Linked DNA regions of Homo sapiens. The protein of the gene in region 3 interacts with the protein of the main gene of each other region in a biochemical or structural test. Each region holds a gene or a part of one and is shown on either strand. Other genes may lie near its edges.

What was found. The genes of interacting proteins can lie anywhere in the genome.
Region 1: the proteins of NFIC (region 3) and PRDM1 form a complex in vitro, tested with the Homo sapiens proteins (one study listed by BioGRID).
Region 2: the proteins of NFIC (region 3) and ETV7 form a complex in vitro, tested with the Homo sapiens proteins (one study listed by BioGRID).
Region 4: the proteins of NFIC (region 3) and ELK3 form a complex in vitro, tested with the Homo sapiens proteins (one study listed by BioGRID).

The regions. Positions count from the first base shown.
Region 1 is NC_000006.12:106,092,836-106,096,335, forward strand, and holds part of PRDM1 (PR domain zinc finger protein 1), read left to right. Parts: intron 1-2,779; coding exon 2,780-2,899; intron 2,900-3,500. UniProt on the Homo sapiens protein: Transcription factor that mediates a transcriptional program in various innate and adaptive immune tissue-resident lymphocyte T cell types such as tissue-resident memory T (Trm), natural killer (trNK) and natural killer T (NKT) cells and negatively regulates gene expression of proteins that promote the egress of tissue-resident T-cell populations from non-lymphoid organs.
Region 2 is NC_000006.12:36,365,694-36,368,181, reverse strand, and holds the end of ETV7 (transcription factor ETV7), read left to right. Parts: intron 1-1,206; coding exon 1,207-1,307; intron 1,308-1,419; coding exon 1,420-1,537; 3' UTR 1,538-1,988; downstream 1,989-2,488. UniProt on the Homo sapiens protein: Transcriptional repressor; binds to the DNA sequence 5'-CCGGAAGT-3'. Isoform A does not seem to have a repressor activity. Isoform C does not seem to have a repressor activity.
Region 3 is NC_000019.10:3,368,613-3,374,005, forward strand, and holds part of NFIC (nuclear factor 1 C-type), read left to right. Parts: intron 1-5,393.
Region 4 is NC_000012.12:96,197,375-96,200,874, forward strand, and holds part of ELK3 (ETS domain-containing protein Elk-3), read left to right. Parts: intron 1-651; exon of another isoform or gene 652-768; intron 769-3,500. UniProt on the Homo sapiens protein: May be a negative regulator of transcription, but can activate transcription when coexpressed with Ras, Src or Mos. Forms a ternary complex with the serum response factor and the ETS and SRF motifs of the Fos serum response element.

The DNA.
Region 1 (3,500 bases), on a different chromosome or scaffold from region 3:
CGCTAGACTTAGAATGGATATAGGTGGTTTGTAAGTGCCTTCCAGTTTTGAAATTTTATGATTTTGTATCTTTATCTATAGGTGTGAGTTTATATGTGCCCTATAGCACTGTATGTAATTGAAATTTAAAATATTAGGGCGCTCTGTCCCTTTCCTAATGATAAGCTAATATTGAAGCTCTTTAATTTGTCTGGGGTTTGAGGATTATCATAGACCTCTCTTCTACCACAGAGCCTTCTCTTTTTAATTGTTCTCCTGTCTTGCCTGTTGAATTGAATTTGTAAGGTTAGAGATGGCAAGAGCTACTTCCGGTGCTGCTTTATAGCTTACTAGTGATGAGTCTATAGTTGTGCTCAAATAGGTATTGGGTAGCTTATGCTTTCTAGTTGACTTCTTTTTGGGCACAAGAAAATGTGTGTAAGATGGATAACTGAAAACCTAGAGGCCCATTCTGTAAAAGAATGGCAATTTGGAAGAAGAACCACGACCTCAGTGCAGTGCTCCGTTTTGGTAATCAAGCTCTGACTCCCAAGACACCATCTGTAAGAGACTATAATTTAAAACAAAGTTGATGAACCAGTTGAGTGCCTTTCTTAAAATTACTGTTGTAAAGTAGATATGTTGAAAATATCAACTGCTAATTATTGGCTCACCAACAAATGGCATGATTTGTTTTTCCTGTTTGTCATTCTAATATTATGGAATAATCACTGAAATATGAATGTTAAATGATTTGCATGTCATAGAATTCAATTCCATTAATTTTCCAAATTAATTAGATTCAATAATAATATGTCCAAAACAATGAGCCTCTGAATAAGTCTACTAAAGCTTTAAATATATATATTTATATCTCAAGACTGCTCTGAGATACTCTTGTCCCCAGTAGTTTTACTGCCAACAAATACCAATAATGACAAACGGTGATTAAAAGGGCAGATAGATGTAAATGAAGGCAGAGGAGGAGGATGAAATGAACATCTGCTTTTTTCAGCTCTCTGACAGAAATTCTTAAAGGACCAAAAATAACACTCTTGTTTCAACTTATGTTAGGTGTAGGAAAATTTTCTTTTTTTCTCTTTCCAGTCTGAGTATGCTTCATTGATTTGTATATTGAATACTAAATTGTTTTAGAAAAAAAAATCATTGGCTGATAAGACACTTAAATGAGAAAAGCTAGTCTGTCACAGGCATGTAGGTGTGCCATATCTATTTAAATAGAGGTTTAAATTATTGATGAGACTTAATGAGGAACTGGTGTATATTGTAACCAAAATTGTAGATTCCACTGTGAACAATCTGTGCATGGATCGATTCACATATTTGAGTCTACCATTTCAGGTACATGAATGTACAGGAGCTACTGGGAATATAAAAACTGGAAAATAAACATTATCATCTATTACCACTCCCTCCTCCTTGGTCCATTTTAGTAAAGAATTCAGTAAAGTGATAGGTAGGCTATCTTGAATGAGAAGAAAATAAAACTAGGAAAGTGAGAGAATAAAAACCAAAACAAAACTGTAACTGCAAACTGTTGTAAAGGACTACTCACAGAGGAGTTCTATTGAATAGTGACGAATTGCTTCCTGATTCACGGTTGGTGATTTTTTTACCCCTTCAAAGAGAAATTTATTATTAAGGAGGAACTGGTATAGTTAACATGTTTCTTTAGCAAGGCCCCACAAAGTTAAAATGTGTGATGCATCCAGTCTGAGGTCATTTCCTCAGATCTTAGAACCTACAGCTTTCCTCCGTATAAACTTAATTTCAAAGGAGGGCTTTTGGCCAGGCATGGTGGCTCAGCCTGTAATCTCAGCACTTTGGGAGGCCGAGGTGGGAGGATCGCTTGAGTCCAGGAGTTTGAGACAAGGCTGGGCAACATGGTGAGACCCCTTCTCAACAATAACAACAAAAATTAGCTGGGCGTGATGGTGCATGCCTGTAGTCCCAGCTACTCAGGAGGCTGAGGTGGGAGGATCTCTTGATCCCAGGAGGTCAAGGCTGCAATGAGCTAAGATCAAGCCACTGCATTCCAGCCTGAGTGATAGTGGGAGACCTTGTCTTTAAAACACACACACACACACACACACACACGAGGGCCTTTGACCACTCTTGAGTAGAAGACTCGAGAAGAACAAAGTAGAAGGCCAGAGAAGAACAAAGTTACTTGAAAGATCTCTTATTAAAGAGAATGTACAAGCTATGAAAAAAAAAAAACACACACACACACACAAACCTCATCTGGAATGAAAAAAACATAATGCATTTGGTTTCTGGTTCCTTAGGCTGTTATGGAACAACCAAAGAACATTATTTTGGTTTCTGAGGTCAGAACTATTTTATTCCCCTCAAGCACACTATGCTTATGGTTTGAGGGAGAATGAGAAATAGGAAACTAGGAACAGGCTGAAATGGTCTAATCTTGACCATCTAATTCTGCAGTGTCTTATTCTCATTCTAAAAGAGAATGGTTATATTCGCTGTTCTAGCATAAAAAGTAATGATAAAAATAAAAGATCCCGTATTACCAGACAATAATCCCCTAGACTGTTTTAATGCTTGGTTGAGTATTTGCTTATGATCTCAGACTTTAAAAGATGGTCTCCCCCTATGGTGAAGCTTGTTAATTATGTAGGCATCATTAATGTCTGTTTACTTATCAAAATTTTATCATTGTTAGTTGTATTACTACTTGACAGTCCAATTTATTTAATTGAAAAGATTGGTTAACATTTTATAGTCAAAGTAATTGTTTCCTGTGTTTTTTCCTGTTTAGGTTATTGGAGTGATGAGTAAAGAATACATACCAAAGGGCACACGTTTTGGACCCCTAATAGGTGAAATCTACACCAATGACACAGTTCCTAAGAACGCCAACAGGAAATATTTTTGGAGGGTAAGTAAGGGAAATTTCTTCAGACCCATTAAATGTTAGGAAAAAATGGAGCTAAAAGAGCTGGGTGGCTCACCTTTCTCATCCTGTGCTGAGAAATGCTGGGGCTCACCCATAAGTATCCAGCATCCCCATGGACACAGGGAATTCTGAACAAATGTGATGAAACCGATGAAATGTCTGGCCTGTAGGTGGTTAGTGATGGAGATACGGGCTATATGTGAATCTTGATTTTTGCAATTCATTAGAGCTTTGTAATGAAAGGAAACAGTTTGTTGCTTGCTTTAAGGATAGGTTCATTTGCATTTCTCCGCAAGGAAGTAGTAATGAGTTACCAAGCCTTAGATTTCACCCCTTTTTGATTTCTTGCTGACTTAACTTTAATTGAATGGAAGAGTTATCACAAATGAATTATCTTTTTGGTTTTTTTTTTTTTGAGATGGAGTCTCACTCTGTCACCAGGCTGGAGTGCAATGGCATGATCTCGGCTCACTGCAACCTCCGCCTCCCAGGTTCAAGCAATTGTCCTGCCTCAGCCTCCCGAGTAGCTGGGACTAAGGTGCGCGCCACCATGCCCAGTTAATTTTTGTATTTTTAGTAGAGA
Region 2 (2,488 bases), on a different chromosome or scaffold from region 3:
GTGGAGACTGAGGCTCAGTGAGGGCTAACAACTTGCCCCAAGTTTACCCATCCCCTGCTATGTAAGAGGCAGAACAGGGAGTTGAACCCAGGCCATGTGCTGCACTATATTATACTGCTCTTAGCAGTGCTGGTGGCTGGAAGGATGCAGATGACTAAAGTTCGGGAGGACTTATTGGTCTAATCCTCATATAGAACAGGGAGGAAAACAGGCCCAGAGAGCAGCAGTCCCATTTAATGAGCATATACTACATGCCATACACTGTGCTAACTGCTTTCATGGATTAGCTATTAATAATTTAATCCTTGACTTATGCGATGGGTGTTCTCCTTTTCATTATGTAGCTGGGGAAGCAGACTCAGAGAGGTCAAGAAACTTGTCCAAGGTGACACAGCTGACAAGCGGTGGAGCTGGGGCTTAAATTGATGCCACACCCCAGGCTCTTTGGCCCTACCTCACACTGCCTACCCCCGAGAGAGAAAGAAATGACTTGGCCAAAGTCACCCAGGGTGTGGCCTGGCAAGGCCATCCATGCCACCCCACCATACTGTCTCTCTGATTGCATTTCCCACAAATATATATATTTATTTGTTACTGTTGTGACATTTGCTGTTTAAAAGTAACATGCAGTTCACTCCCACACTATGTTCTCAGCCAAGTAGGCAGGAGAACCTTTCCATCATTTCCTTCCTTCCTTCCTTCCTTTCGCCTTCCTTCCTTCCTTCCTTTCTTTCTTTTTGTAATGGAGTCTCAATCTTTTGCCCAGGCTGTAGTCTAGTGACATGACCTCGGCTCACTGCAACCTCTGCCTCCTGGGTTCAAGGGATTCTCCTGCCTCAGCCTCCTGAGTAGTTGGGACTACAGGCACGCACCATCACGCCTGGCTAATTTTTGTATTTTTAGTAGAGACAGGGTTTCACCATGTTGGCCAGGCTGGTCTCAAACTCCTGACCTCAAGCGATCTGCCCACCTAGGCCTCCCAAAGTGTTGGGATTACAGGTGTGAGCCACCCTGCCCAGCCCCATCATTTCTTCCCCAACCTTCCCCTGCCTTTTTCCTTCCAAACTCAAGTGAGCACTCATAAACCCTCACAGATCCCTGGAATGAGAGGCTTAAGAAGCTGTCCAGTCCACCCTACTCCCTTCCAGGTGTGGAAGGAGCAGGACATGGGGAGTGGGGCTGATGTGGGGCTGCTTTGCTTTCCAGAACCGGGTGAACATGACCTACGAGAAGATGTCTCGTGCCCTGCGCCACTATTATAAGCTTAATATCATTAAGAAGGAACCGGGGCAGAAACTCCTGTTCAGGTGAGTGGCCTAGGGGATGTGGTGAAAGGGGAAGCAGAACTGGGGTTGGGTGGGCTGGAATCCCCCTGCAGCTGGGGCAGGAGCTGATTTGCAGTTGGGGCCTGAATTCTAGATTTCTAAAGACTCCGGGAAAGATGGTCCAGGACAAGCACAGCCACCTGGAGCCGCTGGAGAGCCAGGAGCAGGACAGAATAGAGTTCAAGGACAAGAGGCCAGAAATCTCTCCGTGAGGGGCAGGTGGACTCCAGGCACCCGGTACCGATGGGGCAGGGACCGAGTCTCCCATGAAGGCAGACTCCTCCTCCCAGCAGAGCAGCAGGATCCCCAGCCAGACTCTGTACCCACAGGATTACAGCCATTGCTTGGGAAGGCTGGGAGGCCTCCCATCCAGGACACTGGGGGCAGGAGTGTCATCTTTTGGGCAGGGCAATCCTGGGGCTAAATGAGGTACAGGGGAATGGACTCTCCCCTACTGCACCCCTGGGAGAGGAAGCCAGGCACCGATAGAGCACCCAGCCCCACCCCTGTAAATGGAATTTACCAGATGAAGGGAATGAAGTCCCTCACTGAGCCTCAGATTTCCTCACCTGTGAAATGGGCTGAGGCAGGAAATGGGAAAAAGTGTTAGTGCTTCCAGGCGGCACTGACAGCCTCAGTAACAATAAAAACAATGGTAGCTGATGTTTCTTTCTTTTATTTTTTTGAGACAGTCTTGCGCTGTCACCCAGGGTGGAGTGCAGTGGCACGATCTCGGCTCACTGCAACTTCCGCCTCCTGGGTTCAAGAGATTCTCGTGCCTCAGCCTCCGGAGTAGCTGGGATTACAGCTGCCCACCACCACACCCGGCTAATTTTTGTATTTTTGGTAGAGACACAGGGTTTCACCATGTTGGCCAGGCTGGTATCGAACTTGCGACCTCAGGTGATCCTCTTGCCTCAGTTTCCCAAAGTGCTTGGATTACAGGCGTGAGCCACTGCGTCCAGCCGATGTTTCTTAAGTGTTTGCTATGTGCCAGGCCTTGTGCTAAGGGCCTTGTGGATATCTTATCTCATTTAATTCACTCGGCATTCAGGCGTGAAGATGAGGACACTGAGGGAGAGGCTTGTGGAGCTGGCCCGCCTCTCCACAACCCAGGGCTTCGACCTGTTTTCTTTCAGCACCTCTGACTGTATGTGGATGCT
Region 3 (5,393 bases):
CTGCGATTCTCCTCTCTGCCCCGCCCTCCACCCCAGCCCTGTAGTGGAGCTGGGGACCCCCTTTCCAGTTTGTCTTCAGCCTGAATGTAATCCCCACTGTTCCCCCAAGGCCCAGCCTGGTCTGGGGTAGCCAGTGGGGTGGGCTGGGGGACTCAGAAGGACCCTGAGTGCCCCATGCAGGAGCCTCCCACCCAAGTCCTGGCTGCCTGACTCAGTTTCCCGAATCACGTCCCCTCCGTTTCTCTCATCTTGGTCTCTTTTTGTCTGTCTTTCTCTCTTTCTCTCTGTCTTGCTCTGACTCTGTGTGTGTGTGTGTGTGTGTGTGTGTGTGTGTGTCTGTTTCTCCCTGTCTCTCCATCTCTGTCTCTCCCCGCCTCTGTTTCACTCCCAGTCACTGTTGGTCTCTTTGTGTCTCTCTTTCTCATCCTCTGTCTCTCTGATGTCTCAGTCTCTCCCACTGTCTCTGTCTCTTCATGTCTATCTCACCATCCCTTTCTCCTCTTTGTCTCTGCATGTCTCTTTGATGTGTCTCTGTCTCTCTGTCTCTCCCTCCCTTTGCCTTCTTTGTGTGTCTGTCCGATGTGTCTCTGTCTGTTTCTCTGTCTCTGTCTCTCTGCCCCCTTCCTCTCTGTCTCTGTTTCTCTCCAATATGTCTGTCTGTCTCTTCATCTCTGTCTCACCTTCCCTTTCTCCTCTGTCTCTGCGTGTCTCCCCTTGCCCCCTCTCTCCCTGTCTCTCTCTATCTCTGCATGTGTCTCCTTACTCCTCTCTCTCTGTCTCTCTCTGTCTCTGGGCCTCCCTCTCCCCCTTTTCCCAGCTAATTTTACAACCTGAGCCCAACCGAAAATAGCTCCCTTTTAGCTGATCCGACCCGGATCCTTCTCGGGAGCCGAGGCTGGCGGGGGGTGGGGGGCATCTCGGTGCCAGCCCGCTCTGTGCCACCCGGGCCCGGCCCGCCGAGTGGGGAGTGGGTGCTGGCGGCCCTGGGGCATTCTGGGAGCCCCGGGCCGGGCTCAGCGGTGACTCAAGCGCTTTTTCACTTTTACTCTTAAGAGGAACTGTGTGGAGCCCATGGCTCCCATAAATCCTGCCGGCGGGAAGGCCGGCCTCCCCGCGCCTGCTCTGGGCCTCCCTCCCTGCCTCCCTCCCGCTGGCGCCACCGCCACGTTAGTTATTCCGGGTTTGGGGCCAAGTCCCTCTTGGCCGCAGCGTGGCGGATTCCCCGAGCCACCTCCATCCCGCCACCGGGTCCCTGTCTCATTCGTTCGTTGTTTCCTTCATTCGTTCGTCCCATGCCCTCTCGGAGCACAATGTGCTTTGCTGCCATTTCTCCAGCAGGGTAACCGAGGCTGGGAGAGGCTGTCCTCCCACCCCAGACCCCCGACCTTTGTTGGATTTTCTAGATCTTCCTTAAGCATCTCCTGGGCCCTGGGGATAGGTGGGGGTGGGGGAGGCAGCAGGGCCCAGGCCCAGTGTAGGTTCTTAGAGGGAGCTTGGGGGGTGCCTACCAGGAGCAGGGGGCCTGCAGCCCCTCAGTGCCGGGAGAGGGGCTAAGAGTCAGAGAGGGCCAGGGCCTGCCCGAGGTGGCACAGTGGGGCTGGCAGAGCTGGGGTTCAGGCCATTTTCCATCTGGCGGCTTGGGCAGGTGGGCGCTCTCTCCCCGTGTGCCCCCCACCCGGGGCCTGGTGGCCTCTGATTCACTCTCTACAAGGCTCCACCACTCTCCCGCTGTATCTCCCTCTGGGTCTCTCTGTGCATCTCTCTCTGTTTCTCCCCCTCCCCTCTCTGCGGCGGAGGTGCCTCTGCGCGCCAGGGCCAAGCGCCCTGTAAATCACCAAAGCTGGGATTCTGGCAGAGTCAGCGTTCTCCTCTCTCTCTCTCTCTCTCTCTGTCTCCCTCCCTTTCTCCCCCCATCTCGCTCTCTCCTCCTCTCTCCCTCTCTCCTTCTCTGTCTCCCTTTCCGTCTTTCCCTCTTCCTTTCTCTCTCTCTCCCCGTCTCCCTTCTCTCCCTCTCTCCTTCTCTCTTCTCTCTCTCTTTCTCCCTCCCTACCTCCCTCTCTGTTCCTCTTCTTTCTCTCTGTCTGTCTCTTTCTTTCTCCCTCCCTTCCTCTCTCTCTGTTCCTCCTCTTCTTTCTCTCTCTCTGTCTCTCTGAGCTGGCCTCCCTCCCTGTCTCACACCAAATGGATGGGAAATGCTGCCTGGGCCTCCTGCCCCGGACACGGCCCGCCCCCCACTCTCCTGCCTGTGTCCACGCCGACCTCACCTGGGTGCCCATCTGCCCTGAGCACACAGCGTGCGGGCACCCAAGTCCTGACCAGTTCACATCCATGAGCACACGCTGGGCGCACACGCGTGCACACTCCCTGACACCCATACGGACGAGGACACAGCTCTGCCTGCCTCGGATCTGCCTTGATGGGGGTCACCAACACACAGACCTAGAGTGCCCCTCACATCTGCCTGAAAATCTTGCTCAGGAGGTGCCAAACCCAATATAGTACCTGGTATAGAGAAGGTGCCAAATAACTGCTATAGAGTGGTGCCAAATAAGTGTTGCTGTGCTTGTGATTGTTGCTAAACTAATTCTCCTCTTTCCTGACTCTGGTGGGTGACCTGCCCCCACCCCCGGACCGTTTCTTGCCCTGAAATGAAGTCAGCAGAAACCCCCACTTCCTCAGGGCTGCTGCAGATTCAGGGAGGCAGCACAATTTTTTTTTTTTTTTTTTTTTGAGGTAGAGTCTCGCTCTGTCGCCCAGGCTGGAGTGCAGCGGTGCGATCTTGGCTCACTGCAGCCTCCGGGGAGGCAGGACATTTCTGAGGTCCACAGTGCAGGGCTTGGTACTCAGTAGGTGCCCAATAAATACCTGTTGCACGAATGAATGAATGAATGAATGAATGAATGAATGTTTTTGGTTGAGAGGCGGGACTTTGGTCTTCCCGAGCCTCCATTTCTCCGCCAACATAAAATAAAAAACATAATGGCACTTTCCTCAGAGACATCGATGTACCTTAGTCCGACACCTGGTATACAGTAGGTGCCAAATAAGTGCTGCTGTGCTTATGGTTGTTGCTAAACTAGTAATTGCATTGAACACCCCAGAGGCATTTTCCAGTTTCCCTCCCTTCCCTCTGTGTGTATTTGCGCAGCGTAAGCCCAGCTTTGGGCTGGGTGACAAGGACAGTGGTGACCTGGAAAGGCCCAGGCTCAGACCCCTCTCTACTGTGGCATTTCTGTTAGTTTTTCTTTTCTTTCTTTTTTCTTTCTCTCTCCTTCCTTCCTTCCTTCCTTCCTTCCTTCCTTCCTTCCTTCCTTCCTTCCTTCCTTCCCTCCCTCCCTCCCTCCTTCCTTCTTTCCTTCTCTTTCTCTCTCTCTCCCTCTCTCTCCCTCTCTCTCTCTCTCTCTCTCTCTCTCTCTCTCTCTCTCTCTCTCGGAGTCTTGCACTGTCGCCCAGGCTGGAGTGCAGTGGCGTGATCTCAGCTCACTGCAACCTCCGCCTCCTGGGTTCACGCGATTCTCCTACCTCAGCCTCCCAAGTAGCTGGAATTACAGGCACGTGCCACCACGCCTGGCTAACTTTTGTATTTTTAGTAGAGACGGGGTTTCACCATGTTGGCCAGGCTGGTCTCAAACTCCTGACCTCAGGTGATCCACCTGCCTCGGCCTCCCAAAGTGCTGGGATTACAGGCATGAGCCACCGTGCCCGGCCTCTGTTAGTCTTTTCTCCCTGCCCAGCCCTGTCCAGGGTCTCCCTGAGTTTGACCAGCCCTGTGTGGGTACCAGCCTTCCTTACACATGGGGGTGCATGGATAAGGGGGGTCCCAGAGGCAGAAGATGGGAGCATTGCTTCAGTGGTCTGGATGCTGGAGATGCTAACAGATCAAAGCTGTGCCCTTGTGGGACCGACAGTCTAGGCCGGGTCGGGGACGGGCAGGAAACGAGGTGACCAGGACTCCTTGAGGATGTGGTGTGCGACCGACCTCGGGGATCAAACAAGGGGAAGGGAACCACGTGGGACTCGGAGAGTGTGCACGGTGCAGACCAGGTGTCACTGGACGCTCTGGCCCGAGACTGTTTGCTCAAGGGGCCCAGGAGTGGGGTGGGGGGGTGCCAGGAGGCCCAGGGACCAGTCCCAGCTCAGTTCCTCCCTGACTGTGTGACTTTGGTGGAAGATTTCATGCCTCAGTCTCCTCCTCGAGGTAGTGGGTGCAATGATAGTCCCCACTTTCATAGTAGACTTTTTTTTTTTTTGAAACAGAGTCTCGCTCTGTCGCCCAGACTAGAGTGCAGTAGCACAATCTGGGCTCACTGCAACCTCCGCCTCCCGGGTTCAAGCGATTTTCCCGCCTCAGCTTCCCAAGTAGATGGGATTGCAGGTGTGTGTCACCGCACCTGGCTAATTTTGGTGTTTTTAGTAGAGATGGGGTTTCACCATGTTGGCCAGGCTGGTCTTGAACTCCTGACCTCAGGTGATCCGCCCGCCTCGGCCTCCCAAAGTGCTGGGATTACAGGTGTGAGCCACCGCGCCCGGCCCCTATTTCGTAGTAGACGTGATAGCTCAGCAAACGCTCAGCCTGTAAGAGGCACAGCCTCGCTCCCTGCCTCTCTCCTCCACCTCCTGGCCCCTCTGGCTCAGCCCTCATTGTCCTCCCAGAACATCAAGGCACAGAGGGAAGTAGGGGACCCAGGGTTCATTTTGCTGACTCACTGCCTTGGCAGAGAGTTTGAACCCTGTGGACTCAGTTTACCCAAATTCCTCACTGTGGCCCACAAGGCCCTGCCCAGCCTGTCCTTGTCCCCTCCTCAACCCTCCCCTCCTCTCTCTTTCCCCCTTGCTCATTCTGCTCCAGCCACATGGGCCTCCTCGCTGTTCCTCTAACACGCCAGGTGCGGTCCTGCCCCAGGGCCTTTGCATGACCCATTTCTCCATCAGAAAGCTCCTGGCCTGGAGTGCCATCTCTCAAGACTTTGTTCAGGTGTCTCCTCCTGCAAGAGACCTTCCTGGACCCCCCCCCCAAGCTAAAAAACACCCCCCACCCCAGAGATTCTCTGGTCCCTCAAACTCTTAAATTTCTTCAGAGCACTTTGCCCAACTTGACGTTTTATTACATATTTTGCTGATTTTAACCATCCGTCCCTGCCCCAGATCTGGATCCAGGTGAGGGCCGAGCCCAGGTCCCTGCCAAGTCCTCGGCACCCTACCTGGGACCGGCATGCAGCAGGCACTCACTAAATGTTTGCTGAGCAACAGAATGAATCTTCCCTCTCTGGGAGCCGTTCACATGTCCACAGGCTGTGATTTTCTGAGCCAGGGGAAGGAGCGGCCCAAGGTTAGAGCCTGACGCTGGTGCCGGATGGGCCTGGGGTTGTCCGTGGGACCATGGACAAGTCATC
Region 4 (3,500 bases), on a different chromosome or scaffold from region 3:
GCCCAAAATGTCTATAGTGGATTGAGAAAAATCTTATTTACTTTAATGATGATGAAGATGATGAAAGCTCTTTAACACGCATTCAGTCAACAAATAGGACATTTAAAAGTCATCATCTGTAATTTTGGCCACATACGTAACATAGCATTCATGAATTTTCTCTTTCTCTTTTTGGTCAGTAACATGCAATAATAGAGTGACATACGGATGGTGACCTTGTGATGGTGTACCCTTTATGTCCTGAATTAGGCCATCCATCTCTGAAACTCTGCAAGTATAGCATCTTCATGCACTTGGTACCAATGCTGTTGAGACCAGAATGGCAGTAGTCCAGATAGGGGAGAGCAGTGATTTGCCAGCTCCATTTGAGTTTTGAAGTTAACCTAAACATTTATTAAAGACCTCCTCTTTTTCTTATATAAAAAATTAAATAAGTCAAAAGTGCTAATATACAGTACATGTAACTCTGAGGTCATATATTAAAATTTATATTTGTAATAACTTTTTGGAACTTGAATCTTTTCCTGAAATTGGTTTTAAAGGACTTCCAGGCAGTGTATGTAAATTAAAATATTCCCTTCTTAGCTGTCAGATATTGGATTTTGTGTGTTCTGTGGGACCCAATTATATTTATATATCTATCTGATTCAGAAGACCAGTATGGTGCTGTGAAATGTTGCAAAACATGACCTGATGACAACCCAAAACACTTCATAGAAAACTATCCAAGAATGTGACTTCCTGGAGTAGAGTCTTTTTTCACTGAGGGTGAGTTGCTGCTTACTAATCGTTAGTTTTGTTGCCTTCCAATTCTAAGGAATGACTCAGTCATCTCCATGTTTCCCAGACCTGGACTTCCTCATGAAACTTTATTTTTTTAATTGTTTATGTTGCCAGGGCTGGCCTTGCACTCCTGGGCTCAAGTGATGCTCCCACCTCAGCCTCCGCAGTAGCTGGGGTTACAGGTGTGAACCTCTGTACCAGCTGTCTCATTAAAGTTTAAAAGAAATGGGCTGTCTGTCCATTCTGGCTTTGTTCTGGCTGTAGAGCCCAGATGACTGTCTTCTGACCCTTTCCTAAGGTTCTGTACATAAATACGCAGATGAGAGGGGAAGGGGACTCCATTTTTGTTAGATTTTCTTGTATGTTTCAGGCAAAAGTTTTTTATGTCCTGGTTATCTTTAATTCCTCTTTGCCTGTATAGATCGACTTATAACACACTTTGAGACCATGCTAGCAGAATAGTATCTTCTAAAGGTTGGTTGTTTTTTTTCCTATTGTAAAAAATATTAATGTGAATTGCCTTACAAAGATACAGAAAACTGCTATAAAAAAATAGACATCTCCCATAATTCCACTGTTTACCTTTTGATGTGTAATTGTTCAGTTTTTTAAAAAAATGCATATGTGTGTCTATGTATATCCACACATGCACATACCATTTTTAATTGAAAGCACACTGTACTTACTGTTTTATAACTTTTTTCACTTAACATGTAACACATTTTAATAATTAGTACCGAGACCGAAATTATCACATAGAGCTTCTATTTATTGATCTAATAAATGTGTTGGCTCAACCATGGATTGACATAATTTCTTCATAGACTTGTTCAGTGTTTTTTGTCCTCTGTGGTTCAAGTAATGTTCTAAGAATGCTGCCCTCTTGAAAGACTGAGTTCCTATGTGCTGTGAAATTTTGGATTTTGATGAGTTTCTCTGTGATTTAAGGATGAGTCATGATTTGCAGTAGAATATCAAGATGTAGTAACAGGAAGTACAGGGCACTACACATGAAAATAGAATGTTAAATGATGAAGAGAAACCAGGTTAAACTGAAAATATACCTTGAAATTATCCAACTATGAAGGGAGAGGAAGGTGTGTTTTGTACATTTTAACAACTCCTATTACTGTTTCATTTTCTATCAGTGGAGTTTCCAAACTTTGAAGTTGGTGTTTTAAATTGATTTTTAGCTCAAGATTGCTGTTGTTCATAGCCACTTTGAATTGAGGTCATTCAGCCTTTTGATTGAAACCATGGCAGTGAGACCATGAAAACTCTAGTTTTGCCACTTATAGAGCAGCCCCAGTAAATAAAATTAGCTGTGTGTGTGTGTGTGTGTGTGTGTGTGTGTGTGACCTTCTGTGAAATTCTAAATGTCTTCAAAAATGGTAGATTACTCAGTCTTTTAAATAACTATTCTGTGCAGAAATTCAACTCCCCATGGTTCCTGCCTGAAACCAAAATAAAAATTGCCTTTCATCCATTACTGGAGATTTACATATATGTCAGCAGTTTTAAAGTAAACTTTGAACTAGTCATTTCAATAAATTGTGATTTGGTTTGAATTCCCACTAGGAATAAAGTCATTGACTACTTTATTGCTATGTATTAATTTACATTTCCTGGAAAGTACTACTTTTTTCTAAGAATTAAATAAGATTATAACATGGCTTTACTTGTATATTTTTAAAGAAATTTAGACAATGTTATATTAGTGTATTCTAATTTGAATTAGACTGAAATGAATTTACTCACACACTCTAAAACAAGGATCTATTTATGACACATAGTGTCATAAATATGCTTAAAGTTTCTATAGCTAAGAACAATTTCTGAATATCCATGTGTAATATGGGAGTGATGGGATAGGTATAAAACACTTATCTAGATACCTTCTCTTTTTATTTTTTAAATTGATATAAATGTACATATTTATGGGGTACATAGTGATTTTTTACATATATATCATGTATAGTAATTAGATCGAGGTAATTAGATCCATCATCTCAAATGTTTATGATTTATTTGTGTTGGGAACATCCATTATCTTCCTTCTAGTTAATTGAAACTATATAGTATTATAGGCATCCTGCAGTGCTATAGAACACGAGAACTTACTCCTCCTGTTGGAGACCTTCTCTTAAGACTGATGAAGCTAGGGCTCCTGTACTCCAAGCAATAGAGTAAAGAAAACGAGGCTCTTGGTATCTTCCCCTCTCTCTTTTTTTTAAGTTGAGGTATGATTTACATATATTAAAATGCGCAGATCTTAAGTGTTATTGTATACATACATGTAACCCTACCCAAAGAGACAATATTTCCATGTCCCCAAGTGTTTTTTGGCTTATGTATTTAGAGACAGAGCCTGGTTCTGTCACCCAGGCTGGAGTGCACTGGCACTGTCATAGCTCAGTGCAGCCTCAAACTCCAGGGCTCAGGTGATCCTCCTGCCTCAGTCTCCCAAGCAGATAGGACTGCAGGTGTGCACCACCACACCTGGCTAATTTTTTTTTTCTTTTTGAGACAGTGTCTGGCTCTGTTGCCCAGGCTGGAGTGCAGTGGTGCAAGCTTGGCGCACTGCAACCTCCGCCTCCTGTGTCTAAGCAATTCTCATGCCTCAGCCTCCCAAGTAGCTGGTATCATAGGCATATGCCACCATGCCTGGCTAATTTTTGTATTTTTAATAGAGACGGGCTTTTGCCATATTGGCCAGG